Linked DNA regions of Homo sapiens: region 1 is linked to region 2. Evidence: fine-mapped expression QTL. A gene starts in region 2. The other region holds a variant in brackets. All regions are shown on one strand. Distances are between the middles of the regions. Region 1 holds the start of MAK (male germ cell associated kinase). Region 2 holds the start of SYCP2L (synaptonemal complex protein 2 like).

Evidence for each region. PIP is the estimated chance that this variant, and not a neighbour inherited with it, causes the effect.
Region 1: its variant is fine-mapped to the expression of SYCP2L in cerebellum (GTEx, PIP above 0.99). The same link has a PIP of 0.9 or more in cerebellar hemisphere, nucleus accumbens and prefrontal cortex.

What each region holds. Positions count from the first base shown.
Region 1 is chr6:10,822,966-10,838,554 of GRCh38, forward strand. MAK (male germ cell associated kinase) reads right to left here and starts at 15,574. Exons shown (of 15, transcript NM_001242957.3): 1 at 15,538-15,574; 2 at 7,583-7,912. The coding sequence starts at 7,683. The variant C/T (reference allele first, on the strand shown) is at 6,121.
Region 2 is chr6:10,881,704-10,897,292 of GRCh38, forward strand. SYCP2L (synaptonemal complex protein 2 like) reads left to right here and starts at 5,349. Exons shown (of 30, transcript NM_001040274.3): 1 at 5,349-5,432; 2 at 9,810-9,878; 3 at 12,164-12,301; 4 at 12,382-12,501. The coding sequence starts at 5,424. It overlaps GCM2 (glial cells missing transcription factor 2), which reads right to left and starts at 338. Exons shown (of 5, transcript NM_004752.4): 1 at 1-338. The coding sequence starts at 90. RefSeq lists a silencer at 233-527 and an enhancer at 4,516-5,284.

The DNA of each region.
Region 1 (15,589 bases), 59 kb before region 2:
CAAAGAAACCTCTTATTTTGTTCAGTGTAGTGTTCTCCCAACTTCTAACCATTCCCCCTCCAACACATCCTAGCCAGTTTTGACTGCATTTCTAGACCGCTCAAAAGGTTTGCCTGCTGAATTAAGCACAGACTTTCTTCTCCATGTTTACATTAGCAGATTACACCACCCTGTCCATCATCTACCAACTGCCATGCCATGCCCTTGCTTCTTCAGGCCAACTCCCAAAAGCAGAGGGCCAGCATTCAGCTTCTTCTCTGCTTCTCAACGTAATTCTGAACTTGTTTACTTCCTACTTGTTAAATTCCATATGGAACTTGTTAAATTCCATATCTAATAACACATGGAACTTGTTAAATTCCATAGCTGAACTTCTCTAATTCCAATAGAAACCCCCACTCCCAGCCCCCGACACCGGCTCTTTTGTTTAAAAGGTTTTTAGAATGAAAACACCTTCCAGGTAATCAATTTCCCTTTAAGGGGACATGTTTACTGCCCACTCTGAAAATTAAGAATAGGCAGCTCTTCTTCAGCTACTCCACAAAATGTATTCAATGTAGAACGTATTTATTTATTTATTTAGAGACAGAGTCTCACTCTGTTGCCTGGGCTGGAATGCAGTGGTGTGATCTCAGCTCACTGCAACCTCCGCCTCCTGGGTTCAAGTGATTCTCCTGCTTCAGCCTCCTGAGTTGCTGGGATTACAGGCACACACGACCACACCCGGCTAATTTTTGTATTTTTAGTAGAGATGGGATTTCACCTTGTTGGCCAGGCTGGTCTCAAACTCCTGACCTCAGGTGATCCACCCCACTTGGCCTCCCAAAGTGCTGGGATTACAGGCATCAGCCACCACACCCGGCCTGGAATTTATTTTTAATTTTAGGGGAAAAGTATCGATGGATCTTAAAGCGGTATCTAACAAGTTATACCTAGAATATTTATAGCCTAAATTGGAAATGCCTAAAATTTTATATCACCAAGCAAAAGATTGATAGGATATTATGGGATGTGAATTGTTTTGGTAACAAACAAAAAAAAAAAATGAGAAGGGAGAATGAAGACTCTAATATCTGTAATTTTCAGGTAAAGTTTATCCCTCTATATCGGGCTTTAAAGAGATGGCAAAGCCTGCTTGTATGACTCTTGTAGATAACAATCACTGTCTCATTCAGACTTGAGGAGTAACGGCTATAGTGAATATTCAATGTAGGTTAAACTGATAACCCTGCCAGTAGCCTGGCTTCACAGTTGCTTAACTCCTAAGAGATGTTCACCTCTGTCTTACCACAGTTACCATAAACTCCTTGTTATGAGGAATGGTCCTACTGTCCAAGACCTAACAACCTAACTTCAGACTCTTGATCATAACCTCCTATCCTTTTCACCGTCGCTACCCTCAAAACTTCTTTATACAACCTCTTTCTTGTTCAACTTGTGGCTATTCCTACAACCACCTGTGTGGCGTGGTTTGCCTCCTCATCCAGCTTGGCCCCACCATCAGCCTTTCACCCACTACACTCTCAAGATCACACACACGTTCTGAACATCCCCTTCTCCCACCGTTCCACTGCTCCTGCCTTGTCATCCTCCAGTCTCCCCTCTCCTGCCTTGTCATCCTCCAGTCTCCCCTCTCCATACAGATGGGTGGAGGTGGAAAGCAAAGTCATGAAAATGCTCCCAGCGGCTCCACTTTCACATTCGTCCATGTAATTTCAGGCGGACTCTTCCTGACACTGGGCAACCCCTTTGTGGCTTTCTTAACAACTCAGTAACTCATCCTTCACAACTCTCCAAAGCTCCATGCCTCCACTGCCGTACTTCCCGCTACTCCTTGTCCCACTGCAGTCTGGCTTCCACTATTCCACTGGAACAGTGCTCACCGTGGCCGCCAGTTATGTCATATTCCCCAAACCCAAGGAACACCACAGCCGATGATATTGTTGAAATATCACAAGGCCATTTCCAGCCCCTTTCCTTCTGCCTCCTAATATAGAGACTGGAAGAGTAAATACTCACTCTCTCAGCCTCCTTTGGAAGAGAGACCACGTGACCCAATACTAGCCAGTAAGATGTAAGGGGATGTCCTTGAGGACTTCTGGGGAAGAATTATCACTAGCTGATAAAAGATGAGAAGAGTTTGCTCGTATTATTCTGCCCTCTTCCCTCCTTGAACATGGACGTAATGCCTGGAGGTGAAGTAGCCATAAGGTGGTCATTAGGTGACACATTTGAGGACAAAAACAATGCTAACCGCTCAGCATGAAAATCATAGAAAACATCTGAATTTCTTGGGTACAATGTTGAGCCATTGAAAGAGCTCTGGAATCATCACACTCCAGACTTCTTGATACGTGCTTCTGCTTCTTTAGATCTTTCCCTTGGTTTCAGATATTTTCTACATTCTCCTGGTTTCTACCCTATTTCTCTGGTGGCTCCTCAGACTTTTTTGTAAGATCCTATTCCAGGGCCCATCCTTTATATGCCATGGTTTCTCGGTGCCCTAAATGAGGACCTCTTTTCTTCTCCCTCTAAAGAGTTTCAATTGCCATCTGTAGACTAACCATTCCAAATCATTAGCCTGCACCTCTGTTTTGAGATTTAAATGCAAATATTCAATTGACTAAAAGTCATCATGCCCCAGACTGAATTCAGCTTTACCCCTAAGCCTGTGATTTTCCCCTCCTTGACATGGTACATGGTACATGGCACCACCACTATACATTTAAGCCAGAATCCCAGGAGTTAGCCTGGACTCTTCCCCATTTTTTACTCCTCCCTCCACCCTCATGCCCAGTCACCAGTTTCTATAGAGCCTGCTTCCTACATGTCCCTTGACTGTATCCACTTACATCCATCCCCAAAGCTATTTTCCTGTCAGGCCACCACCACTTCTAACCAACATGACTGCACTGACCTTCTAACCTCTAACCAAGATGACTGTATTGACCTTCTAACTGGCCACCTGGTGTCCAGTCTTGACCTCTTCAATCGTCTCCACTCTTCTGCTAATCAGCCAGTTCCAAAAATTTGATCACATCAACAATTCTGCTGAAAATCCTTCATGACCTTCTAGTCTTCAAGATATACACGCTCCTTCATCTGGCTTCACGACTTCACCTGCTAGCCTCACGTCCCTCCTCTGCCCCACTCGTAATCCACGCTCCAGCCACCTACACTTCTTTCAGTTACTCAGCCCCAGTTAGGCCCTCACACACTCTCTCTCGCCTCCAGGGCTTCATACGTACTATTTCTTACTCCCTGGAGCATTTCCCCCCACCCCCCCTTTTAAAAAAATAATTTTCTCTCATTCTTGAGGTCTCAATGACTTGGGAAGACTTTTGTGATACTTCTCCAGTGTGGCTTATCTAGGCTCCCACAGGACCCAATATTCCCCCATCATAGGACTTAGCATACTTGATGTTGTAACTTCTTGAATCTGTTGGTCTTCCTGAGTATATTGTAAGACATCTATTTTGTCCCGATCATGAAATACAACAGGAGTTTAACAATTTTGTGCTAAATGAATTTTTCAATTTTCTTCAAGTCTTCCATGGGACTCCTCTTCTCATTCATTTTTGCTCCATCTTTGCCTAAGGTGGAGCACTGCCCAACACACAGTAGATACTGCATGTGGCAGACACACGGTAAGCTGAGTAGCTGAAAGCCCTCCTTCTCTACCTCTTCATTCACAGAGTCAGCTTTTACACAGGAATATAAAATGCTCAGCTAAGTAATCAGTTTCCCAGCCTCCCTGCAGCTAGGGGTGCCATGTGGTACACTTCTGATCAACGAGAAGAAACCCTATGCATTCTGGATGGGATGTGAGAAAGCTTTTGCTTTCCCAATTAAAAGAGTACAGTAGGCCGGGCACGGTGGCTCACGCCTGTAATCCCAGCACTTTGGGAGGCTGAGACTGGTGGATCACCTGAGGTCGGGAGTTCGAGACCAGCCTGACCAACATGGAGAAACCCCGTCTCTACTAAAAATGCAAAATTAGCCAGGCGTGGTGGTACATGCCTGTAATCCCAGCTACTCGGGAGGCTGAAGCAGAAGAATCGCTTGAACCCAGGAGGCAGAGGTTGTGGTGAGCTGAGATCGCGCCACTGCACTCCAGCCTGGCAACAGAGCAAGAATCCATCTCAAAACAAAACAAAACAAATACCATATTTTTGAAGGATAAAACAAATACCATATTTTTGCCACTCAGAAAAAAATGATGGACATTTTGTCATATAAAACCAGACAGTAATAACCATCTGTGGGACTGTACCCAAGACCCAACACCCCTTCTGATTCGCCTACCCTCCTCCCCAGAACCCATGGCTATCATGGATTTTGGGTGTATCTTTCCAGGCCTTTAAAAATATTTTTGTATATGGATGTATTTGTATATAATAAAGTATTTCTTTGTGTGAATTTACATAATCATTTAATCTACAAATGTGGGCTATTTCAGCTCATTTTGTCTAATAACACTCATTTCTTAGGTTTCTGTCTTATAGCAGTAGTAAGTATCCCCAATGCAATCCTAATCAGCAGGACTGCTAGCAGGCATTTGGGGTTTTCAAACAATTTGTACTGATATTACTTCTGATATTTCACATTAATATGAATTATATAGGTTTTCGTACTAATTCACATTAATATGAATTATGTAGGTTAGGGAAGTTTCTTTTTATTCCTATTTGCTAAGTTTTTGTTTTGTTTTACTTTTGTTTTTGTTTTTAGATAGGGTCTCACTAGGTCACCTAAGCTGAAGTACAGTAGTGGTGGCACTATCTTGGCTCACTGCAGCCTCGACCTCCTGGGCTCAAGCAATCCTCCCACCTCAGCCTCCCGAGTGGCTGGGACTATAGGTGAGCACCACGATGCCCAATTAATTTTTGTATTTTCTGTAGAGGTGGGGTTTCACCATGTTGCCAAGCTGGTCTCAAACTCCTGGGATCAAGCGATCCTCCTGCCTTGCCCTCCCAAAGTGCTGGGATTATAGGTGTGAGCCACTGCATTCAGCCAAGAGGCTTTATCATAAGTTTTTTAAGAAATCAATGTTTGTTTTTTTTAGTTCATCAAATCACAAATGAGCACTGAATTTTATTAAGCCTATTCAATTTATTTTTCATTTCCATTATTGTATATTATATATTTACTTATCTGATGATAATGACTATTTAAAAATATTTTATGAAGTTATTTCCTTGTACATGTAATGGTTTAGATCATAATATTTTAAAACATTTGCTAAAGTATTTAAATTTTAGTTTGTCATAATTTGGTTGATGTGGTAATGTGGAGATGCGTATCCCATGAGTACGGGACTGGTTCTGGTGGAAGTCAACTGCCATGTCCCGAGGCTATTCAAACAACCCTCTGGAAAGGCCCAAGGAAGGAGCCTCTGTAAAAGGGAATTGAGGTGCCTCTTGCCAACAGCCAGTACAAATATGCCAACCCTGTGAGTGAGTGTGATGGGTTCAACTGTGTCCCCCAAAACTCCTATATTGAAGTCCTAGCCCCCAGACTTTCACGGTGTGACAGTATCTGAAGATAGGGTCTTTAAAAAGGTAATTAAGTTTAAGTGAGGTCTTTCAGGTAGGCCCAAATCTGATATGACTGGTGTCCTTATAAGAGGAGCCTGGGCAACATGGCAAGACCCCATCACTCCAAAAAAATTTTTTAAAAATTAGCCACATGTTGTGGTACACGCCTACAGTCCCAACTACTCTGGAGGCTGAGGCAGGAGGATGGTTCAAGCCCAGGAGGCTGAGGCTATAGTGAGCTATGTTTGTACCACCGTACCTCAGCCTGGGCGACAGAATGGAACCCTGTCTTGAAAAAAAAGAGGGGGGAAATGTGGACACAGACATGCACAACGAGAAGATCATATAAAGACCTAGAGAGGATATGGCTGTCTACAAGCCAAGGAGAGAGGCCTCAGAAGAAACAACCAGCAGATACCTTGATGTTGCACTTCTTGCCTCCAGAACTGTGAGGAAATAAATCTCTGTTGTTTAAGCCAACCAGTCTGTGATACTTTGTTACAGCAGCCCTAGCAAACCAAGAGTGAGCCACCTTGGAAGTAGATCCTGCAGTCCCAGTCAAGCCTTCGGATGACTGAAACTT[C/T]GGCCAATTATCTGACTGCCATCAGAGAACCCAAGCCAGAACTACCCAGCTAAGCTACTTCTAAATTCCTGACCCACAGAAACTATGTGAATTAATAAATGTTTCTTCTTATTTTAAATCACTAAGCTTTGCAGGTATTTTGTTATGCAGCAATAGATAAACACAGTGGATTAAAAACAAACAAATTAACAACAATTCTATTTCATAAGTTCAGGAATATAACATATATCATTCAGAACTCAATTTGACATTATGAATACCATCTGATTTTGAGACCTTGTTTTAAAGAAATAATAAGCCCTACTCTGCACTCAACTTTAAATGTGAAAAACAGGTCAGGAATGGTGGCTCACACCTGTAATTCCAGCACTTTGGGAGGCCAAGGTGGGTAGCTTGCTTGAGCCTGGGAAGTCAGGACTGCAGTGAGCCATGATCACACCACTGCACGCCAGCCTGGGCAACAGAGTGAGACCCCCATCTCAAAAAACACAAACAAAAACGAAAACCAACAAATAAATTTGGAAGAACATTCCAAAGATCACCTGTAGTTTTGGTCCAAATGTATTATACATATAAAAAAGGAGGCACTCATATTTTTTGGTTTATCAGTGTAGCTGGACAAGCCAGACAGTTAAAGTAATATAGAAGAAAAACAGCAGAATTCCTCTTTGGCAATGTTCTTTTCCAAGAATGACATTCCACATGAGCCAGATGCTATTTGATCTAAACTAGACCTCTTTCTGTGCTCGTATATATTCTTTTTTTTTTTGAGATGGAGTCTCCTTCTGTCACCCAGGCTGGAGTGCAGTGGTGCAATCTCAGCTCACTGCAACCTCTGCCTCCCAGGTTGAAGCGATTCTCGTGCCTCAGCCTCCTGAGTAGCTGGGATTACATGTGTGCACCACCATGCCTGGCTAATTTTTGTATTTTTAGTAGAGACAGGGTTTCACCATGTTGGCCAAGCTGGTCTCAAACTCCTGACCTCAACCCAAAGTGCTGGGATTGCAGGCATGAGCCACCGCACACAGCCTGTGTGCACGTGTGTGTGTGTGTGTGTGTGTGTGTGTGTGTGCGTGTGCACGTATATATATATATTTTTAGACGGAGTCTCACTGTATCACCCAGGCTGGAGTGCGGTGGCGCGATCTCAGCTCACTGCAACTTCCACCTCCTGGGTTCAAGCAATTCTCCTGCCTCGGCCTCCTGAGTAGCTGGGATTACAGGCGCGTGCCACCATGCCTGGCTAAGTTTTGTATTTTTAGTAGAGACAGGGTTTCACCATGTTGGCCAGGCTGGTCTCAAACTCCTAACCTCATGATCCGCCCGCCTCGGCCTCCCAAAGTGCTGGGATTACAGGCATGAGCCACCGCGCTGGCCTGTGCTGGTATATATTCTTAAGCGAGGACAGGAAAATAAAGAGCAGAGTTTTCAAAGGTGAAGTTGGCAGTGTCACACACAGTACCTTTTGATGGCCACCAGCTCCCCGGATTCATTACTCTTGCCCATAAGCACACTCCCATACGTGCCGTCCCCCAACTGTCTCATGGTTGTGTATCGGTTCATCTTGGAAAAATAATGCAGCAGAAGTTGTTGATTGAAATGACTTCCTTGTTGAATATAAATTTGAACGCTTCTTAATTTTTATTTGCTTTTGTCCTCACACTGTTGTTGCTACACTGGTGACAGGTTTGTCATCATTAAATATAGTCTCTCCCCCAAGATTACAGAGGTTCATGAGATATAGCATGAAGGAATCGGGCAAGGAAACAACACTTCCATTCTTATAAACACCCTAAAGAAAGAAAACAAGGATATCATGAATTTTCATTAACAAGTCTCTTCAAAAATTGTACTGGCAACTTAGAGCAAAGGGAAAATTATAAATAATATAAATACTATTGTGTTAAATATTTGTCAGTAAGTCATTTGTCTATGTAAAATGAAGTTCACATATAACTCACTGGTAATACTCACTTGGTAAATGCCTCATTTACATGGTACTGTGCTATTTATGTTCAATAATGGCATAATGGCTTGTATGATTCCTTTTTTACTAAATATAATCTACATTATTCCAAATCAGACCTTGGAAAATTGATGTCTATATGATATCCATTCTTTGAATCAATTTTTGTATCATATTTAATTTGGCATATTGTTTAAAACTGTACTACTTGTAAATTTTCTGTGGAATATAAGTACCCCAATTGGGTAAGGTAAGTATAAAGCAAACTTTTGTTTCATATGAAAGGAATAGCATTATTTTAAAATTTCATATTCTATTTAAATAACATGCTACTTTATTTTACATCAAACTAAGAAAAATGTAAATACTAATTAGGATTTAGTGTCACACTAGGTTCATACAAAGAAATAAGAAACATAGCCGGGCGTGGTGGCTGATGCCTGTAATCCCAGTGATTTGAGAGGCCAAGGCAGGAGGATTGTAGAGGCCAGGAGTTCAAGACCAGCCTGGGCACCATATCATGCCCTTCTTTACAAAAACTAAAAAACTAGCTGGACTTGATGGCACGCTTGTAGTCCCAGCTACTTGGGAGGCTGAGGCACGAGGATTGCTTGAGCCCAGGAGTTCAAGGTTACAGTGAGCTATGATCACACCACTAAACTCCATCCTGGGTGACAGAGTAAGACTCTGTCTCTAAAGAAAAAAAAATTTTTTAATAAATAAAAAGGGAAGTAGAGCCTGAAGATGTGACTGAAATGTTGTAACCTCATAATCAAACTTGAATGAATGAGGAAGTGTTTCTTATGGATGAACAAAGAAACTGTTTTATTGAGATGGAATCTACTTCTGGTAGAGATGCTATTAACACTGCTGAAAAGACAAAAAAGAATTTTTTTCTTTTTTTGAGACAGAGTGAGACTCTGGTTGGAGTGCAGTGGCACAATCTTGGCTCACTGTAACCTCCGCCTCCCAGGTTCAAGTGATTTTTGTCCCTGAGTCCTCACCCCTGTCACCATCACTCCCCCAGTAGCTGGGATTACAGGTGCCCACCCCGACCCCCAGTAGCTGGGATTACAGGTGCGCACCACCACACCTGGCTAATTTTTGTATTTTTAGTAGAGATGGGGTTTCACCATGTTGGCCAAGCTGGTCTCGAACTCCTGGCCTCAGCGATCCGCCCGCCTCGGCGGGATTACAGGCATGAACCAGTGCCCAGTCAAGAACAAAGGATTTAGAATATTACATAAACTGAGTTGACAAAGCAGTGGCAGGATGTGAGAAGACTGACTTCAATTTTGAAAGAAGTTCTACTGTAAGTAAAATGCTATCAAACAGTCTCACATATTACAGAGAAATCTTTTATGAAAAGTCTGTCAATGTAGCAAATACCATTGTTGTCTCATTTTGAGAAATGGTTACAGCCATCTCAACCTTCAGCAGCCACCACCCTGATCGGTCAGCAGCCATCAACACAGAGGCAAAGCCCTCCACCAGCAAAAAGACTATGACTCACTGAAGGCTCAGATAATCAGCATTTTTTAGCAATAAGATTTTTTTTTTTGACAGCCTCCCATGTAGCTGGGACTATAGGCGCAAGCTACTACACCCAGCTATTTTTTGTAATTTTAGTAGAAACAGGGTTTCACCACGTTGGACAGGCTGGTCTCAAACTCCTGACCTCAAGTGATCCACCTGCCTCCACCTCCCGATGTGTTGGGATTACAGGTGTGAGCTACTGCTCCCGGCCACAATAAGATATTTTTAAATTAAGGTATGTATGTTATTTTTTCTAGACAAAATGCTATTGTATACTAAATAGACTACAGTATAATGTAAACATAATTTGCATATGTACTTTAAACCCAAAAACATGTGTGACTTGCTTTATTGCAATATTCACTTTATTGCCGTGGTCTGGAGCTAAACCCACAGTATCTCCGAGGTGTGTATGTAGTTTGTTTTAAAGTACCTTTTATGACTTAGTTCTTCATTCAAAGAATATTTTTCTCTCACTGGAGCACTTTCATTTAAATCATAGAAATTGCTCCTCTATTATTTGCAGGAATTTAAGACCAACAAGGGCACGTTATAGTTGTCAAAATACTTAAGATTTCCCAAAACAGCCTTTCCGGGAAAAGAAACATAAACATGAGCAGACATAAACGTGCAGAGCAGCACAGTAAAGTTATGTTGTTTCCTATTTACAGGAACGTATCTGTTCACAGAAAACTTGAGAAGAATCCTGTGGGGCTTTTAATAATACGGAGTGTGGGCTGGGCGCCCTGGCTCATCCCTGTAATCCCAACGCTTTGGGAGGCCAAGACGGGTGGATCACCTGAGGTCAGGTGTTTGAGACCAGCCTGACCAACGTGGTGAAACTTCATCTCTACTAAAAATACAGAAATTAGCTGGGTGTGGTGGCGCAGGCCTGTAGCCCTAGTTACTAAGGAGGCTGAGGTAGGAGAATCACTTGAACCTGGGAGGCGGAGGTTGCAGTGAGCCAAGATTGCACCACTGCACTCCCACCTGGGCAACAGTGCGAGACTCTGTCTCAAAATAATAATAATAATAATAATAATAATAATAATAGGGAGTACGTATTTAACATTTATCTTACTTCATGTAGGTAACAATCCCTTCAAAGGCACATATAAAATAATTTAGGCTAGCTAACTCCATGGCCAGGATCTTGAAAAAGAGAACATGACAGCAGATTCCATCTCTATTTAGGGGTTTCTTCCTTTTTGTCAGATTAAGCCCGAGCTAATAATCATAAGTACCAGCAAATGGTTCCCCATTTGCCTGAAAAAGAATAGTTTTGTAAGTCATTGTCACCTTATTCATAGACACTGATTCCAAATATTAAGGTGTTAATATAGAGAAAGGCAGTCTCTCTCTCTGCACGGTTCCTAATCAAAACATGAATTTGCTTTTCTTCATTTTGCCTTTATCTGTATAAGCAAATATAATTTGGAAAAATCTTTTGGGTTGTTTTGTTTTGTACTACGTTAAACAAAACATGGACTAAAATATATTTCTTCTCATTTAGGATTTTATTAAATCAGTATTTTGCAATTTATCACCAGCATATTCAATTGCTGTACACTCTTTTCTAGCTAGCCTATTTAAGGTGACATATATCTATCTCTTTTAGGAAATATGTGATCTCTAGGTTTACTGATTCTTTCTGATTAAGTAAGCATAAAGAGAATATATTTGCACAAAAGGCCATCATGTTCCTTATGACAGTAAGATCATAAAATAAAAACATGGAAGGATTAAATGACCTGTCTAGGATCAACTAGAGAATCAACGATGGAGTCAATCCAATAGTTGCATTTGGCTTGATGTTGTTGGTTTTTCAGGGTCGTCTCCAACTTCTAAACAAGCCATTCTTATGAACTGGTGCCAGCTCTTACTATCCCTAATGAGGCTAAAGAAATCATCCTCTTTGCTCCAAAACCACACAGACTAAGCTCCACAACTCAAGCCACCTACCCCAACCTCCACCTTAAGATTCCTAATGCAGCTCTTCACTCAAACACTAAGATATTGCTGACTACCTGGAAAGTGAAGTGGGACTACTCCATATCCTGACTAAACCCTAATGCTACATCTGGGTCATTCAGACCAGTGAAAAATAACAGAAACAGTGAAGGGAAAGAGTGAGACCTTAGAACTTGAATGGTTAAGGGAGAAAGAATCTAGGTGGTGCTCCTCTCATGAAAATTATTATTATTATTATTATTATTGTTTGAGACAGAGTCTCACTCTGTGCCAGGTCCGACCCGCAGACCCTGGCTGAATGACAGATCAAAGAATGCACTCAGACACAGGTATCCAGTGAAAGAGCGGGCTAGGGGACCGGGCAGCACACAGACCCCAGGAGGGTGCTGTAAACCGTGGCCCTGCTCAGCTGGCGCTGTGGGCATTTATTCAGCACAGATTTAATGACAAAGGCTTTGAGTTAACACACTTGTGGGTAATTAACATGGTCGCACCGCTCCCCCGCCCCACGCAGTCCTGCGTCTGGATGATTAAAGGCCAGGTTCTGAGGCCTAAGTAAACTAACTTATCTAGATTAGTTTCTTTACATCCCCTTGTTATCTAACCTAAGCTCTTAAGAGAATTCAGCTGCCTTCAGCCAAATTTTCTTTTGAAGCTTTGCAAACCCCTGGCCTTCCAAGAAGGTTTGCATCTTTCTACGATTTTTCCCACCACCCTGACCAATCTCCTACAGCTCGGATGCCCAGGCTGGAGTGTGGTGGCGTTATCTCTGCTCACTGCAACCTCCGCCTCCCAGGTTCAAGGGACTCTCCTGCCTCAGCCTCCTGAGTAGCTGGGATTACAGGCGCGTGCCACCATGCCCGGCTAATTTCTGTATTTTTAGTAGAGACAGGGTTTTACCACGTTGGCCAGGCTGGTCTTGAACTCCTGACCTCATGTGATCCACCTGCCTCGGCCTCCCAAAGTGCTGGGGTTTATAGGCGTGAGCCACTGCGCCCAGCCATGAAAATTATTTAATTCAGAAACATAATGGTATGATAGCATCATCTTTTCTTTTAACCAAATTATTTTCATGTTAACACCTAACCAAGGACAAGCATTTGAGGGTCTAAAAGGTAGAAAAGTAATGCAGACAATTCTGAAAAAGGACATATGACTTGAGAAGGGAATGGAAGAGGGAGCTGCCTCTGGTTGCATGGTAATGATGGTAGCGAGTGTTATTCAGGAAGTGGAAACACAAAGAGTGACAAAAAAATCACCTTCATTGGCCCAACAATCTAAAAATTAAGAATTAATTACACCTCTCTCTTCCACTATTAAGGCCATCAGCCACCCCCATCACCACCGCCCTGGGGTGGGAGGGTGACCTGAAGCTGCACCAGCACTATCAGCACAATAGAGCATTCAGTCACTGATGACTTTCGACCCAAGCCTGCGTGCACAGTCTCTTTGCGAGTGGCTATTTTGGCAACTTCATTCCAAGCCTAACCAATCAACTTCTGAATAAACACCGGCAACACCAATTGTCTTTCAACGGATGATGGCTATAGGATAGGGTGTACTTATATTGAGGGAAGAATAAGCAAGGAACACGACCATTTCCCAGCTCCTTTCTGTTTGAGGGGTGGAGTGTTGAGGATTACGGACGTGACATAGATTTTTAAAAGGTCAGATTAGTGGTTCTGTGAGGATCTGTCCCATTTAAGCCCTACCTAACCTTTAAGTAAAACAACTTTACATACTGCGCTCCCTAAGAAAAAACTTTGGAAAGGCTTCTTTTGAACTACATTAATTACAAAATCAACAGCTGCCCAGGGTGAGACGCTGATCATTGCAACTGTTCCTTCTATCCCCTGAACATACAATTGTCTAATGTAGAGACATAGACATCAAGGTAAAGCTTTTAAAAAATCATTATTCCATGTCCCTGCTCCCTGATAGCACATAAGCAACTACTTTTATCAATGTGGCATAGCAACTACTGATTACTAATCAAAAAGCAGTCTATGTTCCTTAAACACAGGCTTCCCATGGTTCTCCAGTTCACGCACAATAATATTTCTCTACAAGTTACATATATTCTTCTCTGTTGACCTATGGAAAACTAATCTACAAAATAGGAATATATTAACACAGTTTCTTATGTACATGAATATATATAGATATGATACATATGCAACAAAAAACCCAAGTAAATATAACTATCATCCTCAATTTAACAGAATTGTTAAAAACTTGGAATTTTCTACAATCAAGCTATAACATTTATTGACCTTCCTATGGGTTAAAGAAAAAGATGCTTATTTAGAGGCTTAATTATAGACCTACACAAAAATAAATACCCTTATAATTTATCTCTCATTCTAGTTTTCAACTTTTTAATCTAAGTTCATAATTACCGTTTCTCTAAGTGCACAATTGTTGTAAATATAGCCTTTACTCTCAACAGCTTTTGCCAGCTAATAAGAGATTCAGATAGGATTAAAGAAGATTAGCAAAGAGGGCAAATGAAGGGTAAAACAAGCGTCTGCCAAAAACTGAAGAGATAAGGCTTGGATGTCTTCAACGTGGCTTTCTAGAACATATTATGTCACTCCGAGGCTGGCTTAACGCTTCTAATACACAACAAAAGAGTAATTAACGTTTTAAAAGTCACCAAACTCTTTAAAAAGCAACGCAGGAAAAAAAGATCCCAAACTAACCAAGTCGAAGTTTTACAGAAATTAAATGAGCTATTACAATGGGAAAACAAAGACTGTATCTTAAAATATAAAAGCACAGTTCTCTGTGCTCATATTCACAAATTATTTCAAAGCTTATACACAAAAAAAGTCCACCCCGACGAAGAGATTAAACGTCCTGCCCGGTGCCTGCAGTGGAAGCAGGCGGTGGCGCGGTTGGGGGAACTTTCTCCCTCCCGGTCAAGCCTCGGGAATTGAAGGGCCGGGGAGGCGGGGCCCGATCGAAAAGCTGGAAAGTCACTTTTGTTTTCACCATTATTTCACTTAATGGGTTGTGTTTCTGAATAAATAAAGTCAGATAACTTTGGCTTCCCTCTTTGAGAATTCCGTTATCATTAGAACAAATGTCTGTTTCTTTTAAACGATTATCTAACCACATTTGCATACAGCTCTTTCCTTGTAGGATTGAGATTACTAACCACTAAAAACCAGTTTTATTGCTCTCGACACCGCACTCTCGACCTGTCCCTAAATTAAAACGGATTACTTGCAGAAAAGGGACAGTTTTCGTCACACACTTTCTGATCCGACTCTGCAAACCAGGGCTCTTAAAAGGCTCCAGGGACCGCGTGGTGGAAGGAGGGGGCGTCCCCGGGCGCCGGGAGTCCGGCGCCGTTGGGGGGGACGGGGGTGTGCGGAATTCCACTTTCACCTGAGCGTCCTTTGGGATGCACCAGCGAGGGCTGGAGTCGGACCTAATTCCTGTTTTTCTCCCTCCTTTTAGATTTTGCAACAGTTCTGAACTCAGTTCCGCTGCCTCCCTGAGACCCAATCCTGCCTCTCTGTCCTAAAAACAGTTTCCACCGCCAGCCCAAGCAGCAGGGGAGCAGAGGTGGGAGATCCCGGAGGAGAGTTTAGGGGCGGGGGTCTCAGGCTAAGGGACGCCCGGCCGTCATCCTCCCACGCCAGGCCGGCCCCCGCGGTCCAGGAGGCGGGAAAGTGGTCAAGAGGTCTGGGAGACACCGACCGCCTTCCCTCGGGCTGACCACTCCCGCCCGCTCCGCCCCTCCGGGGACCCTCCTCCCTCCAGTCCTTCCCCTACCGGCGTCAGGGACCGGTCTCCGGGCGGAGATTGGCCCTGGTAGCACAGGGCGCCGAGGGGACATGCCCGGCCAGCCTCGCAGGTCGGGCTCCGGCTGGGTCGGACAGAGGGTGGTGGCCCTGCAGCCCGCTGGGGATTACCTGTCCGCGCCTGCTGCTTACCTCGTTCGCTCCCTTGTGAAGCTCCGGCGTCTTGTGTGTTTCATCTCCTAGG
Region 2 (15,589 bases):
CTGAGGCATCTGCGGATCGTTGATGTCCCAGCTGAGCTGCATCCCGTAGGAGCACACGCCGACCGCTTCCTGCACCGCGGCCGCCGGCATCTGCCCAACTCGCTCGCGCTTTCCGCCCAGGGTTCTGAAAAATAGAAGAAAAAAGGACAGGTGCGCCAGGTGGGTTTTTTTTCTTCTCTTTAAAGAAGAAAGTGGGGTGTGTGAAGGGGAGGTGCAGAGAGAGAGAAAGAGAGAGAGGCTGTTTAGATATCTGGAAGCTGGGGACAATGGTTATGGACCCGGGCGGGGCCTTGTCCTTGGCCGCGGTGCTGAACGTTCTCCACCCGAACGGCAGCATCGACCTCTGGCAGCTGCCCCCTCCTTTATAAAGATATACCTCCGGGGGGCTCCGCCCTGTCTCGCCTACCTCGCTAGCGCCCACGCTCCAGGGGCCGGTCGCCCCCTCCACCACAGTCCCAGGAACGGAGGTGGAGGTTAAACTCAGCCCTGGAAGCAAATGGAAACTGCAGCCAGAGGGTGGGGGTGGAGAGGGTAAGTAGGAATGTATCCTTTAAGTTTAAAACCTTATTATTTTCTTCTTTTCTTTTCTTCTTTTTTGTCTCACTCTGTTGCCCAGGCTAGAGTGCAGTGGCGCCATCTCAGCTAACTGCAACCTCTGCCTCCCAGGTTCAAGCGATTCTCCTGCCTCAACCTCCCGAGTAGCTGGGAATACAGGTCCGTGCCACCACCCTGGCTAATTTTTGTATTTTTAGTAGAGACAGGTTTTAGCCATGCGAAACCCTGACCAAGCTGGTCTTGAACTCCTGACGATCTGCCCGCCTGGGCCTCCCAAAGTGCTGGGATTACAGGCGTGAGCAACCGCGACCGGCCTATTTTTTTTCTTTTTTCTAAACGCGTCCAGCTTCCCTGATTTCGGAAAGGGGCTTAGATGGAGGCTTTCCAGCAAAGTCCCCTGAGAGCCAACACTCAATTCCAGGAGAGCATGGGAACCGTGCGTGGGCCCCTCTGCCGTCCGCGTGCGCCCTAGCCTGAATAACCGCGCCCACGCCTCCTAGTTAGGGGTCAGCCCATTTTGGGCCTCCACTGCCGGCTCTTCCCCTAACTATTGTGAGTGTCTCGCAGTCTTGGCTCTGCTGTTTGGGACGTGCCAGGGTGCGCCAAGCCTCCGCGTATGCTCGCGAGCCCAGGCGCCTTCACGCTCCCGGGGACTTCGGAGGGACCTGGCCCTGCAGGAACGGAGTCCTACAAAGTGAACCTGGAGGAGGTGGGGGGCGGAAATGAGCCCGGGGTAGGTGGGAGCCTGGGGTAGGTGGGAGCCTGGGGAAGGAGGGAAAGGGGAGAGGGGAAAAGTCCCAAAGAACTCGCTTTCTCCACTGCTTTGGCTCCCTCTGGGTCTCAGCTTCCTTATCTGTTTATCTGTTAAATAAGAGGTTGTGGTTCGGCGAGCTCTCAGTTGCCACCCACCCGAACACAAATCTTTTTTTTTTTTTTTTTTTTTGAGACGGAGTCTCACTCTGTCTTCCCGGCTGGAGTGCAGTGGCGCAATCTCGGCTCACTGCAACCTCCGCCTCCCAGGTTCAAACGATTCTCCTGCCTCAGCCTCCCGAGTAGCTGGAACTACAGGCGCGCCATCGCGACCAGCTAATTTTGTATTGTTAGTAGAGACAGGGTTTTACCAAGTTGGCCAGGATGGTCTCGATTTTTTGACTTCGTGATCCTCCTGTCTCGGCCTCTCAAAGTGCTGGGATTAAAGGCGTGAGCCACCGCGCCCGGCCCACAACTCTTAAAAAAAAACTTCACTGATATAGTCTTGGAAATATCACGACGAAATTGAATTTACTCCATTACAGTCTTGGGAGGCTTTGGAGGACTAGAGAATCGCGGTGGTGCGGAGGTGCGCAGGACAATGTGGGTTCTCCGGGGCTGGGACGAAACCTTCATCATCTGAGCAGCCGACTCGCCCAGGGCTACTCCGGCACATGGAGACCCTCAGTATATATATATATAAAAAAAACAAAAAACAAAAAACAAACAAAACAAAACAAAACCGATTGAAGTGACTAAAGTCACTCTTTGACTACCCCAAGGCCGGATTCTTGGCGGCCAGGGGAAAGGGCTTCTGGAATTTATTGCCCGCGTCCTTGTTTTGCAGCTGCACGCTTCCATTCCCAGCCCCAGCCAGAGAAGAGGAGCCAACTCCTCACGGCAGATCCCTTGATAGAGGAGGATGAACCGAATCCATGACCCTCCAGACCCGGGAAGCGACGCACCCTAGGCCTTGGCACCGCAAAGCCCGTGCTGAGCGCACGGACGGGTGCTGCCCGGGACTCGGCCAGGAGGGCGCCCATGCCAACGCCTCTTGCAGGATTAGTGCCTTCGGTTGGCAAAAGGCGGATAAAGGAAGAGCGAAACCACATCAGGAAGCTAAGGGTGGTCCACGCTCCCTGTCCTTTTACTTCCCGCGCCAAAGGCACAGTGAGGCTTGCTTAGAAAAGTCCATCCCGCGATTGGGCGCAGTGGCTCATGCCTGTAATCCCAGCACTTTGGGAGGCCGAGACGGGAGGATCGCTTGAGCCCAGGAGTGCAAGACCAGACTGGGCAACATGGCGAAACCCTGTCTCTTCGAAAAAAAAAAAAAAAAAAAAAGCCGGGCATGGTGGCGTGTGCCTGTAGTCCCAGCTACTTGGGAGGCTGAGGCGGGAGGATCGCTTGAATCCAGGAGGCAGTGGTTGCAGTAACCTGAGATAGCGCCGAGCCTGGGCGACAGAACGAGACCCTGTCTCAAAAAAAAAAAAAAAAAAAAGGAAGGAAAGAAAGACAGAAAGAAAGAGAGAGAGAGAGAGGAAGGAAGCAAGGAAGGAGAAAGAAAAGAAAAAGAAAAAAAAAAGAAAAGGAAAGAAGAAAGAAAAAGTATCCCAGTCGGTCAGAGAAGCCTGCCAGTGGCAGCGGACCAGCGAACTCTGTTGGGAAGAAAGGCCAACTTCGAGCAGTTCCTCGCGATTTTTTCCTCCTTTATCTTCTAGCTGGGGTCCTCCTCCCAGTCAAAGCCGAAGGGTCCTAGCAGAAGAAAGTGATTTGTTCATTCCCAGCCTCCTTTCTCCCGAAGTTCTCCCCTCCTAAAAGGTCCTGTCAGTCAAGGTTTCTGATTAAAATCACTCTCAAATGGTCGCCACTGAGGTCTAGCTGGGAACGAAGAGATCTGTCTACTCTTCACCCACGAGTTTCATTCACAGATTTTTCATCTTATTAACTGTCTGCCAAAGGTCCCCGAAACTCCTGTTGATTCAGTTGCTTTTCGTGTTGTTTTGTCTTCCAAAATTGAATGAAAATTTATTGATTATCCATTTTAATTATAGTATTTCATTAAATGTTGTAGTCTAAGATAACTTATCCTTTCAAATGTTCTAAAAATAACTTTAAAATGGTGATTTAAAGTTACCTCTGAAAATGCATAGAAATTAATTTTTGGTCTTATTGCAGTGCTAGAATAGTTCTTGTCTCTGTGCTTTTGGAATGTTCCTAGAGAGACCTGACCCGTCAAAAACATAAATAAATAAAACTTTTTTATGTAAAAGGCAAATCAATTAATTTCTAAAGGGATTCTGGTATCCAAAGAAATGTCATAGAGCCTCTACTATATTTAGTTTGAGAAGAATTAGAGTATGCATTTCAAGTTGCCATAAATTATATTAAGACAAAACATGTTAGTAAAAGAAGCTAATCAAAGTAAAAAAAAAACCAGATAAAAGGTATTTTGCCTATTCTGTTATTTTTAATTTCTCTTAAAGATTTGAATGCATTGCACCATAGACTTTGGAAGGACATGTTTTCCCCCAAAGCCTGAAAATAATAGATGATTAAGTTTTCTATCTAATATTATGAAAACTCTAATTTTTAAATATTCTCTTAAAATTCATTTAAACTGTAGTATTTTGTTTATTGCTTCTTATTATTCATTGTTTCTTTCTTGCCCTGGTATTATATTTGTATTGACTCACAATAGCTTATACTCACAGCTGTTCCTGTCTTGATTACTAGTTTAATATTACAAAAGTCCATTCATTGAAAAGGAAAAAAACTTGCGTTTGAATTTCCTTGGTTTAGATTAAAATAGGTAAATTAATGTAAGAATGTTTACATTATACTTTCCAGGAAATTGATATGACAGGCTTTGACATAAACATTGTTTTGAACGGACTAGAAATGTGTGCAAGTCCTGGGCTAACAGGGGTTCTGGTTTTGTTATGTTTTGCTTTGGTGTAGACAAATATCTTCCGTACATATTATGACTTGAAATACTCACAGGTCTAGTTATAATACAAGTTGATTTTTACACAAAGGATGTTTGGATTGGAGGGGTCTTTTTTTTGTTTTTTGTGGAAAACTCTAGTCCAATTTAATTTTGCCACCGTGTTCACACAACTGGCCACCTATCCGAATCAGCCTAGCCATTGGTACGCATACTTGTCAGGTTAAAGGAAATAGGCAAACAAAGAAACAAAAAAACAAAAACAAAAACAAAACTATTTGCTTTGATTAAAAAAAAAAATTCCCCTTCCTCCCCACCACGGTACTTAAAAAACAACCACCAAACACACTTTGTGTGTGTGTGAAATCAGGAATGTATTAATAATATCGGGTACAAGTCTGGTTACCATAGGAAAGGGTTCGGCTTCTGTCTGCACACATCAATGGACCAAAAACTGCTCCTCTGGCTGTTTTTTTTTTGAGACGGAGTCTCACTCTGTCCCCCAGGCTGGAGTGCAGTGGCGAGATCTCCGCTCACTGCAACCTCCGCCTCCCGGGTTCAAGTGATTCTCCTGCCTCAGCCTCCCCAACAGCTAGGATTACAGGCACGTGCACCGCGCCCGGCTAATTTTTTGTATTTTTAGTAGAGACAAGGTTTCACCATGTTGACCAGACTGGTCTTGAACTCCTGACCTCAAGTGATCCACCAGCCTCGGCCACCCAAAGTGCTGGGATTACAGGCGTGAGCCACCGCGCCTGGCCGCCCCTCTGGCTTTTTAAGGCGGGGCAAAAACTTGGAACAGCTACCACAAAGCGAACGCCTATCTGTTTGGAATTTCGCAAATAAGGAACGTTTAAATGACGTAGTTCACATCCTTTGAGTGCTGGCTTTCTCTTAAAGGGTGAGTGCGTGCGCCCAGGTGGTTTGGCCTGTGTGCGCTAGTTACTTGCACGCGCTTCTTGAGTCTCAAAACACAGAGCTCTAGTAAACTTCAGGGGGCGGATTCGTCAATTACAGTTGCGGAAGAAGACTCGACTCGAAGAGCGGTCCGCCACCAGGGCTCTTTCGGCAGCGCCCCCAGCGGGCGGGGCTCTTGGGCGGGGAAGCAGGAGAGGGCCGACCGAGCGCAACAAAGCTGAGCGGCGCGTCGCTTCAGGAACGAAGAAGCCTCGTTATGCAAGCGGTGAGTGACCCCCGAAGGGCCCGGACCTTCTGTCCACAGTGCTAGGGCGCGCGAGGGCGCGGGGTCCCTGGGGCTCAGGTTCTGCCGCCTTGAGGTGTTCGCTCAGAGACCGGGTGCTGGGCATAGTCCCCCGCCACCTCCTTGGGTTTGCTCGGAGTGTATTGGCAGCCTGCGGGGAGACCAGGCAGAATAGAAACCTCGGATCCCTAGCTAAATAGCGCTCAGGGAAAGGGGAACCGGAGAATTCGTGTTCGGAAAGCAATGAGATAGTTCTTTTCTAGTTGCTTTGCGTATTTTCCTAGCCGGTTTTCCAGCCCTCTTTCCACCTTGCTGCGTAGAAAGTGCAGAAGTGTTAAGCAACCCCAAGTGCTGGGACTTCATTTAACCGAACGACAAAGGACAGCCCCTAAGATAAAGCTACAATTATTACTTATCAATAAATAATAAAAAAAAACACATGAAGTTTGAGCCCACCCAGGGACGCCAAAAACAACAAACAAAAACCACCTGGGGCGTGTTTCTAACATTCTTCTGCCTGGGTTCCTGGTGGTAGAAATTCTGATGTAATTGGTCTACGGTGGGCCGGTAGTTTGTTAGTTTGTTAGTGAGGACGCCAGGTGATTCTGATAGCCAGGGGTAACTGCTTGCCTAGATCCAGGAACTCACTCTTGTTCTCCATAAAATCCATCTGTCATCTGGCGCCATCTTCCCAGCCATGGGGAAACAGATTTGGGACAGAAACCTTTCTAACATCAAGCTACGCTTAAATTCAGAGCACTTAAGCATAACCTCCTCACCCTCTCCATCCCTGTTACATTGAAAGCTGCCATTCACTGAGCCATTTTTATGTGCCCAGGCACTATGCTAAGAACATTACAGACATTCTGTCAGTCAGTCCTCACTCCAATCCTTCCATATAGGTGTTACCATCTTTTTTTTTTTTTTTTTTTTTTTTTTTTTTTTTTTTTTTTTTTTTTTTGAGACGGAGTCTCATTCTGTCGCCCAGGCTGGAGTGCAGTGGCGTGATCTTGGCTCACTGCAACCTCTGCCTCCCGGGTTCAAGCGATTCTCCTACCTCAGCCTCCCGAGTAGCTGAGACTACAGGCGCGCGCCACCACGCCAGGGTAATTTTTGTATTTCTAGTAGAGACGGGGTTTCACCATGTTGGCCAGGATGGTCTCTGTCTCTTGACCTCATGATCTGCCCGCTTCGGCCTCCCAAAGTGCTGGGATTACAGGCGTGAGCCACAGCGCCCGGCTATCATCATGTTTTTTAAATGAGGAGACTGAATCTCAGAGAATCTAACGATCTTTTCTGCCTAAACCATCCCACTTTCTGATTTTCCTGTCAGGTTCCTACCCACAAAAGCTGCCACATGATCTTCACAGAAGGGGGATACCTTTCTGTGTACTAGAGTGGCTCCAGAAATTCCAGAAACAGGAAGCATTTCTTTGGAATTTGCAAAGTACTGACCACCAAGGCCAGAGAAGGTTGAAAGGAGGTAGAAATAAAAATAAGCAGAGCATCTCTGCATACGAATTGAACTGAAGGAGAGATAGGGCCGTGTCTATAGAGAAAAGAGGTAAAGAAGCTTAACATAAAGGCTCCCGGGAATATTTTCTTTGGGATGGGAAGTATTTCCCACTAATTCAGAATTTGTTGACAAAACTTAGAAATTATAGATACGTAGCATAGTGTTTATTTGATGTCAGTTTATGCTATGAATTAACACCCTTTTTTTTTTGATACGGAGTCTCACTCTGTCACCCAGGCTGGAGCGCAGTGGCTGGATCTCGGCTCACTGCAACCTCCACCTCCTGGGTTCGAGTGATTCTCCTTCCTCAGCCTCACGAGTAGCTGGGTCTACAGTCACGTGCCACTGCGCCCAGCTAATTTTTGTATTTTTTAGTAGAGACGGGTTTCACCATATTGGACAGGCTGGTCTCGAACTCCTGACCTCATGATATGCCCGCCTTGGCCTCCCAAAGTGCTGGGATTACAGGCGTGAGCCACTGCGCCTGGCCTAACACCCAATTTTAATTGTAGCTTTAGCTGTTCCTCCTATCTCACTTTTGCCTCTACTCAATTATCCACTAACACAATGGTTCTTTTTCTTTGCCTTTATCATTTATTTTTAATTGACACATATATTAATTGACACATAGTAATTGCACATGTTAATTGGGTGTAGTGTGATATTTCCATATGTGTATACAGTGTGTAATGATCAAATCAGGGTAATTATGCATATCCATCACCTCAAATATTTATTTCTTTGTGTTGGGAATGTTCAAAATCTACTCGTATAGCTATTTGAAAATATACAATAAGTTGTACATTATAGTCACCTTGCAGTACTATCTTACTCTAGAACTTACTCCTTCCAGCTAGCTGTAATTTTGTGTTCATTAACTAACCTCTGCCTATCTCACTTCCTCTTTTCTAGTGACCACTATTCTCTCTACTTCTATGAGATCAGCCTTTTTTTTTTTTTTTTTTTTTGAGATGGAGTTTCACTCTTGCTTCCCCAGCTGGAGTGCAATAGTGCAACCTTAGCTCATTGCAACCTCCGCGTCCCGGGTTCAAGCGATTCTCTTGCTTCAGCCTCCCCCGTAGCTGGGATTACAGGCATGCGCCACCCTGCCCGGATAATTTTCTATTTTTAGTAGAGACAGGGTTTTGTCATGTTGGCCAGGCTGGTCTCCAACTCCTGACCTCAGGTGATCCACCCACCTCGGCCACCCAAAGTGCTGGGATTACAGGCATGAGCCACCGCACCCGGCCGAGATCAGCTTTTTTAGCCTCTACATGTGATCAAGAACATGCAGTGTGTCTGTCTGTGCCCCGCTTATTTCATTTAGCATAATGTCCTTCAGGCTCATGCATGTTACCATGAATGACAGGATTTTGTTCTTTTTTCTGGCTGAAAAGTATTCCACTGTGTGAATATACCACATTTTCTTTATCCATTCATCCACTGATGGACACTTAAGTTGATTCCATATCTTGGCTATTATGAATAGCGCTGCAGTAAACATGGGAGTGCAGATATGCCTTTGACATACTGATTTCTTTTCTTTTGGATATATCTCCAGGAGTGGAATTGCTGGATTTATGATAGTTTTTTGAGGAACCTCCATACTGTTTTCCATATTGTCTATACTAATTTACATTCCTACCAACAGTGTACAAGAGTTCCTCTTTTTCCATATCCTTGCCAGCATTTGTTGTTTTTTGTCTTGATAATGGCCATTCTAACTGGGGTAAGATAATATCTCATTTTGGTTTTGATTTGCATTTTCCAATGATTAGTGATGTTGAGTATTTTTTCATATACCTGTTGGTCATTTGTATGTCTTCTTTGGAGAGATGTCTATTTAGCTTATTTACCCATTTTTAATTGGATTGGTTATTTTGCTGTTGAGGTGTTTGAGTTCCCTGTATATTCTAGATATTAATGGCTTGTTGGATGCATAGTTTGCAAATATATTCTCCCATTCTGCTGGTTGTCTCTTCACTCTATTATTTCCCTTTCTGTAAGAAGCTTTTTGGTCTGTATAATTTCATTTGTCTATTTTTGCTTTCATTGCCTGTGATTTTGAGGTTTTCTCCATAAAATCTTTGCCCAGACCAATGTCCTAAAGTGTTTCCCCTATATTTTATTCTAGTAGTTTGGGATCTTAAGTGTAAGCTTTTAGTTTATTTTGAGTTGATTTTTGTATATGGTGAGACATGGGATCTGGTTTCATTCTTCCACATATAAATATCCAGTTTTCCCAGCACCAGTTATTGAAGAGACTGTCTTTTCCCCATGAATGTTCTTGACACCTTTGTCAAAAATCAGTTGGCTATAAAAAAGTAGATTTATTTTGGGTTTATCTATTCTGTTCCATTGGTCTACATATGTGTCTGTTTTTATGCCAGTACCATGCTGTTTTGTTCCTATAACTTTGTAGTATATTTTGAAGTCAGGTACTATGATGCCTTAAAGACACTTTTATTTAACTTTATTTTACAAGCTCTCATTCTGAAAATGGTTTATTAGTTCAAAGCCTTTTTACTTCTACTTTATAATCATCATTATAGAGTTTGTTTATTTTGTGTGATTATTTATTCAAATGATGTTTGCTTTGCTTCTTCTGATAGTTTGTACTGTATTTGTCTTAGACCATGCTAAAGAAGGTTGGATAAAGTTTTTCTCTTTTTTCTAAGTACTATTTTACTTAGACCTATAATATGAGCAAACAAAAATTTCTGTTCAGGAAAACAATACAAACCTTTAATTTTTTTTTTTTTTTTTTTTGCTTTGTGTTTAAAACTTGAAATGCATTTCTTTGAAATAAAAATTGTTTAAAAACATGTTTTTATTCCACACAGAAAAACAAAGATGCTTTGCAGCCTATTAAGGAAGACAGGACTGGGAAGGCCCAGGATGATGCTTTCTGGGTAAAGATCAAGTTTCTTTTATAATCTCTCTCTGTGTGTGTGTGTGTGTGTGTGTGTGTGTGTGTGTGTGTGTGTGTGTGTGTATGTGTATATGAGTGTATGTATTCTTTCTAGTTCTGTGTTCCCTGGGTCATTAGCAAACTTGTTCCTCCAGTTGCTCAAATCAGAAGCAGAGAAATCTTTACTTCTCCTTCCCTAATCTCTCATGTCCAATTTATTACTATATCTAGTCAATTTACCATTAGCTATCTTACCAATATCCTAGTCTAAACTATCTTGTGCCCTGTGCAGATATCTTGTGCCCTAAATGCAGATAGATGATACTGAACAAACTAGAAACAACGTCTGCCTTTATGGAGCTTATAGACTGGCAGAGAGCCAAAGAAGCAGGAAGAAAAAGAACAGGGTAATGAGATGGGGAATAATTGGGAATGTTGAGGAGGCACCTGGTCTACGTAAGATAAGGTGGTCCTGGAAGATCTACCTGAAAAAGTGATGCTTAAGCTGTGATCTGAGTGGAACCAGCCATGTGGAAAGTGGTGGGGTGAAGTAGCCCAGGCCTAGAACAGCCAGTTCAAAGGCCCCGAGGCAAGGAAGAGCTTGACTTATCCTAGGACTCATTAGCAAGGAGGTCAGACTGTCAGAGATCAGATCATGCCACGTTCTGCGGACTAAAGCAAAGGATTTTGGGTTTATTTTTAATGCAGAGGAAGCCATGGCAAAGTTTTGTTTTGTTTTAACGGGATCTCACTCTGTTACCCCAGCTGGAGTGCAGTGGTACAATCATGGCTTACTGCAGCCTTGACCTCCTGGGCTCAAGTGATCCTCCTGCCTCAGCCTTCTGAGTAGCTGTGACTACAGCCATGAACCACCACACCTGGCTAGTTTTTCATTTTTTGTAGAGACTGGGTCTCAATATATTGCCCAGGCTGATGTCAAACTTCTGGGCTTAAGCGATCCTCTTGCCTTGGCCTCCTAAAGTGCTGGGATTACAGGCGTGAGCCCTGCGCCTGGTAATGGCAGAGTTTTAAGCAGGTAAAAGGGAGTGAATTTCAGCTGAGCAATCTCACATAAGTTTGTAACCTTTCCTATCCTTGCTACTTGTATCCTGAGATAAAGAACCTAACCTCTCAGGACCGTGGTAAGGATTAAATAATAACATCTGCAGAACACTTAACACACTTGGCACAAAAAAGCTCACTATGTGTTAACTTAAAAAAGAAAACATTCTGTTTAAATGGAATAATTTTAAATGCTGTTTTCCCTTTTAATTCAGTACTAAGAATAAGTGGAATTGTGGGCTGTATATAGTAAATTGCTTCCTTATTAAAATAGTATTGTATATTTAACCTGTAAGATTTTTTTAAAGATAAAAAATCTTTTATAGTTTAAATGTTTAAGGAAATGTCTGTTATTCAAGTATATATACTTTTTTTTTTTTTTGAGACAGAGTTTTGCTCTTGTTGCACAGGCTGGAGTGCAGTGGTGCGATCTCGACTCACCGCAACCTCCGTCCTAGGTTCAAGCGATTCTCCTGCCTCAGCCTTCCAAGTATTACAGGCATGCGCCACCACGTCTGGCTAATTTTGTATTGTTGGTAGAGATGGGATTGCTCCATGTTGGTCAGGCTGGTCTCGAACTCCTGACCTCAGGTGATTCGCCTGCCTTGGCCTCCCAAAGTGCTGGGATTACAGGCGTGCGCCACTGCACCCGGCCCTTCAAGTATATGTACTTAGAAGCATGTCTTAGCTAATGTGCAGGCAGAAAAGATGAATTTCATTCATTATGGTCAATTTGCATACTTATTATCTATAATTATTAGTATTATTTTTCTTCCTTCTATTATGATCATTTATGTCACTTAGTGAGTGATCATAGGCTTGAAATTTTTAGTGTTTTAGAATTCCCAACATTGCTGAGGATCTTCACCTAATGATATCTGAAACTGAAGTGTTGTTTTCCTTGGGTCAGTGGTTCCCAGACTTCAGCATGCACGAGAATCACGTGAAAGGCTCTGCCCTGAGTGTGAGTGCTAAGAAGTCCCCAGGTGATGCCAGCGCTGTTGGTGGTCTAGGAACCACATTTTGGGAACTCTTGTCTTAAACCAACGGAAACATCAATCATTTGTGAAATGATTGTTTACTATTCAAGATAGAGATCTCCATTCTATATTTACCCTATATTATTTCACACTGAATTCTTATTGATAATGAGATCAGTTAGAAAATTACTATAAAATAAATGTTCTTGGGGAAAAAGTAATTTGCAAACTATCATCTTTCCAGCTTCAATCACTTATTACGGATGCATTCCATGATAAAGGATTTCAGAAAATAAAAGAATACTTTCAACAGAAAGAGAGCCACTTTCCTCAAAAATATAATCGTCTTCTATTATACCGTCTTGACAGATCAATAAATAAGGCAAGTTGGTTTGCTTTGTGACCAAAATACAAATGTATAATTATTTATAAGTGTTTTAACTTAGTGTGGTTTATACCTAGGAACTAGATAAAAATGAATTTCAGTCTGTGTCACTGTTGCTGAAATGTATTCAGCGATTCCTCGTAGATGGCCTGAAAGAAGATGAACCTCTGCTAATTCGGCAGGGACTGATCCCAAAGATAAGTGTCCTATTTTAATTTTATATGGCTTTGGGTAACTTAGAGAACTTAGGTGGATTTAGTTGTCTAGTTAAGTTTGGTATTTTCTGTTCCTTTGAAATCCAATTTGAAAAGAAATTGATATCCATTCTTATTGCTTCTGTCTAACCAAAAATTAAATTCGACATACATTTCCTGATGTACCTGCTATAGAAGGCACTTTGGGAGTGCACAGGATCGAGTCAGACACAACCACTGCCCTTGTTGAGCCTATGCAGTAATTATTATTTTAAATTATTTTAGTGAATTTGGGGGAAAATGAGTAGGAGTAGGCTCTAGAACTATTTTAATAGACTTTATTAACAAGATTAGACCTAGAAAAATGATCGTCAAAAACTTTTCTTTGCCCTTGTAACACCTCACTTTATCCATTTTCTAAACCTTGGATGAATCTGAAAAAACAAATAGCAGAAACATTTTTGCTTATTCAAAGTTACCCAAATTATCAGCTTTTATTCTTTTAAAAATAATAACCAAGAGATAACATGGCGAGTGCCTTTATAACGGCATCTGGAAGTAAAGCAGAATCTGCAACATCTCTTGCTGCAGTTCCGCTCTTTTAGTGGTGAGGTTTTTGCAGCCCAGAGGCAAGTTTGTTTATTGACGAGGAGATGTGGGGAAGAAGTAGGGTGGAAGGATCATCTGGCTGCTAATAATGTCTTTGATTTACCCCTTGAGCTCCAGTACCAGAAGTTTATTGAGGCCAGATTGGGCCAAGATCTGTCTTTGCCCTTTGTTACTCTAAAATGCGTCTAATTATGAAGCTACCCCCTCAGGAGAGAAAGCAAACTCCAGGCTTTCCCAGACTCCTCTCAGGGACTTTAAAGTGTTTGCAGGGGGAATTAAGGACTGTGTTTATGCAAACCGTATATATTTCGTTCTGCATATAACCCCACTTGACCTGTTGATACGCCAACTTCTGCAGATAACAGGAAGCAGGGGAAAGGAGATAAAAATCTCAAAGGAAATGAGGCAGAGATGTCCTAAGTGTACCTTGGAACCCTAAGCTGACCTTTTGGGGTATGAATAGGACTTCTTCTGCGCAGAGGGGTACCTCCTTGGCCAGTTGCCATGAGAGCACACCTGAACAAAGGGGCACGAGGGCCTTTATTCCTGACGCAAGTCCTGCCCCTGTACCCTTTCCCCATTGGCCGGGGTCGGGTCGTACAATCTAATTCCGGTTGGCTAAACATTTCCTTTTTTTCTTTTTAGATAGGGTGGGCATGTAAGAGAAAGTGGAGAGGAAGGGGAAGGGGTGTCTGTAATGAGCTAGAAAGTTAGTCCTCTTTTCAAATAAGGAAAGGAATGTGAGCTGGTACTGATAACGCTTGCTACCGTGGCGTGCCTGGGCATCTAACAAAGGCAAAAAGGAGAAAGGAGAACAAAAGGGGGGGGTACTATGAATTAGAGAATAAAAGATTGATCAGATTATTCGAAGAGAAACCTCATCATATTCCACATCTCGAACTCCCAACCTCAGATGATTCCCCTGCCTCGGCCTCCCAAAGTGCTGGGATTACAGGCGTGAGCTCCCGCGCCTGGCCAACTCTATACTTCTAAAGACAACTGTGTTTGCAGACTGAACACAAAGTGTGCTCGGAAGTTCTTCTACTACATAGAATAAGAATTCCTGGCACGGCGGCTCACGCCTGTAATCCCAGCACTTTGGGAGGTTGAGGTGGGCAGATCACCTGAGGTCAGGGGTTCAAGACCAGCCTTGCCAACATGGTGAAACCCTGTCTCTATTAAAAATACAAAAATTAGCTGGGCAGTGGTGGCACATGCCTGTAATCCCAGCTACTTGGGAAACTGAGGCAGGAGAATTGCTTAAGCTGGAGGTTGTGGTGAGCCAAGATGGTGTCACTGCACTCCAGTCTGCGTGACAGAGTGAGACCCTGTCTCCAAAACAAAACAAGCCCTACAGAAAGGAACATCTTTAGTCCTGTACCGTAAAATCCAGGAGGATTAAGCAACTTTTCTGATACCATATTCCTAAGAAGTCATGGCTGTTGTGTCTGGCTTCTGTAGTGATACAACTGTGGGGAGAGCTGGGATGTCTGTTAGACAATGTGTGACCAGGGCACATAAATGGGTTCAGTGAGAACTTCCTGTTCCCAAGTATTGATCAGATAGTGCAGCCTTTCTGCCACTTCTGTATCTCCTCAACCAGTATATTTGGGAGGGTGCTGGGAGGGTGCTGGGAGTGCGATAGGCTTTGGAGGGATAGATGGAGTGGTGACAAAAATGTATTTAAAAAGCATAGAATTTTGAGTATGAACATAGGGAGGGAGAAAATACAGCCTTAGCAGTGAGTTCTGCTGCGTAGAGGGACATTTCTTTTCTTGTGCTATTGGAGCAAAGCTTCCTTCAGCAGGTGGATGATTCAATCTAGTATAAGTATTTGTCTGATTTGAGACAAAAGAAACCTTACTTGGAAGATAGTAATGGCTTTCAAACCTTGCTGTACATTACAGTCACCTGGAGAGCTCTCACAAACGTTCTTAAACCTAAAATAGAAAACTCAGGTGGGGGTGTATCACCAGTGATTCTGATTACTGGGTCTGGGATAGGTCCCAGGCTTCAGCAGTGGGGGATGTTTCCTAACTCCCCAGGTTTTCCTAATGTACAGCCAAGGTTGAAAACTGGTTTTATCTTCAGCTGGGCTGTCTCAGGTTCTTGGCCCAAAGTATACAGAGTTTTGAAGGCCTGACTCCTGCAAGAGTTGTTCGTCAGAAACTCATGTGACTGATGTCATGTTCAGCTGATAATTTCTAACTATGCATGCGGAGTTTTTCTAATTTTTTTTTTTCTAAGAGTGACCAGTCTCAGTTAAAATCATGGGAAAAATAAGATGGCTTTTGCTTTATTGAGGAAATACTGTATATTCTGGAGTGGGGGAGGAAAGGTTGCAGAAGTTTATTTTAAATCATTCCAATCCCAGCAGTTTAATATGAAATTGGATATGTATTCCTATAGGAAAAAATTCTCTAATTAGCTGGAAGCTTTTTAACGAAAGAAAGATACCTAGGCCTGAGGCATATTTACTATA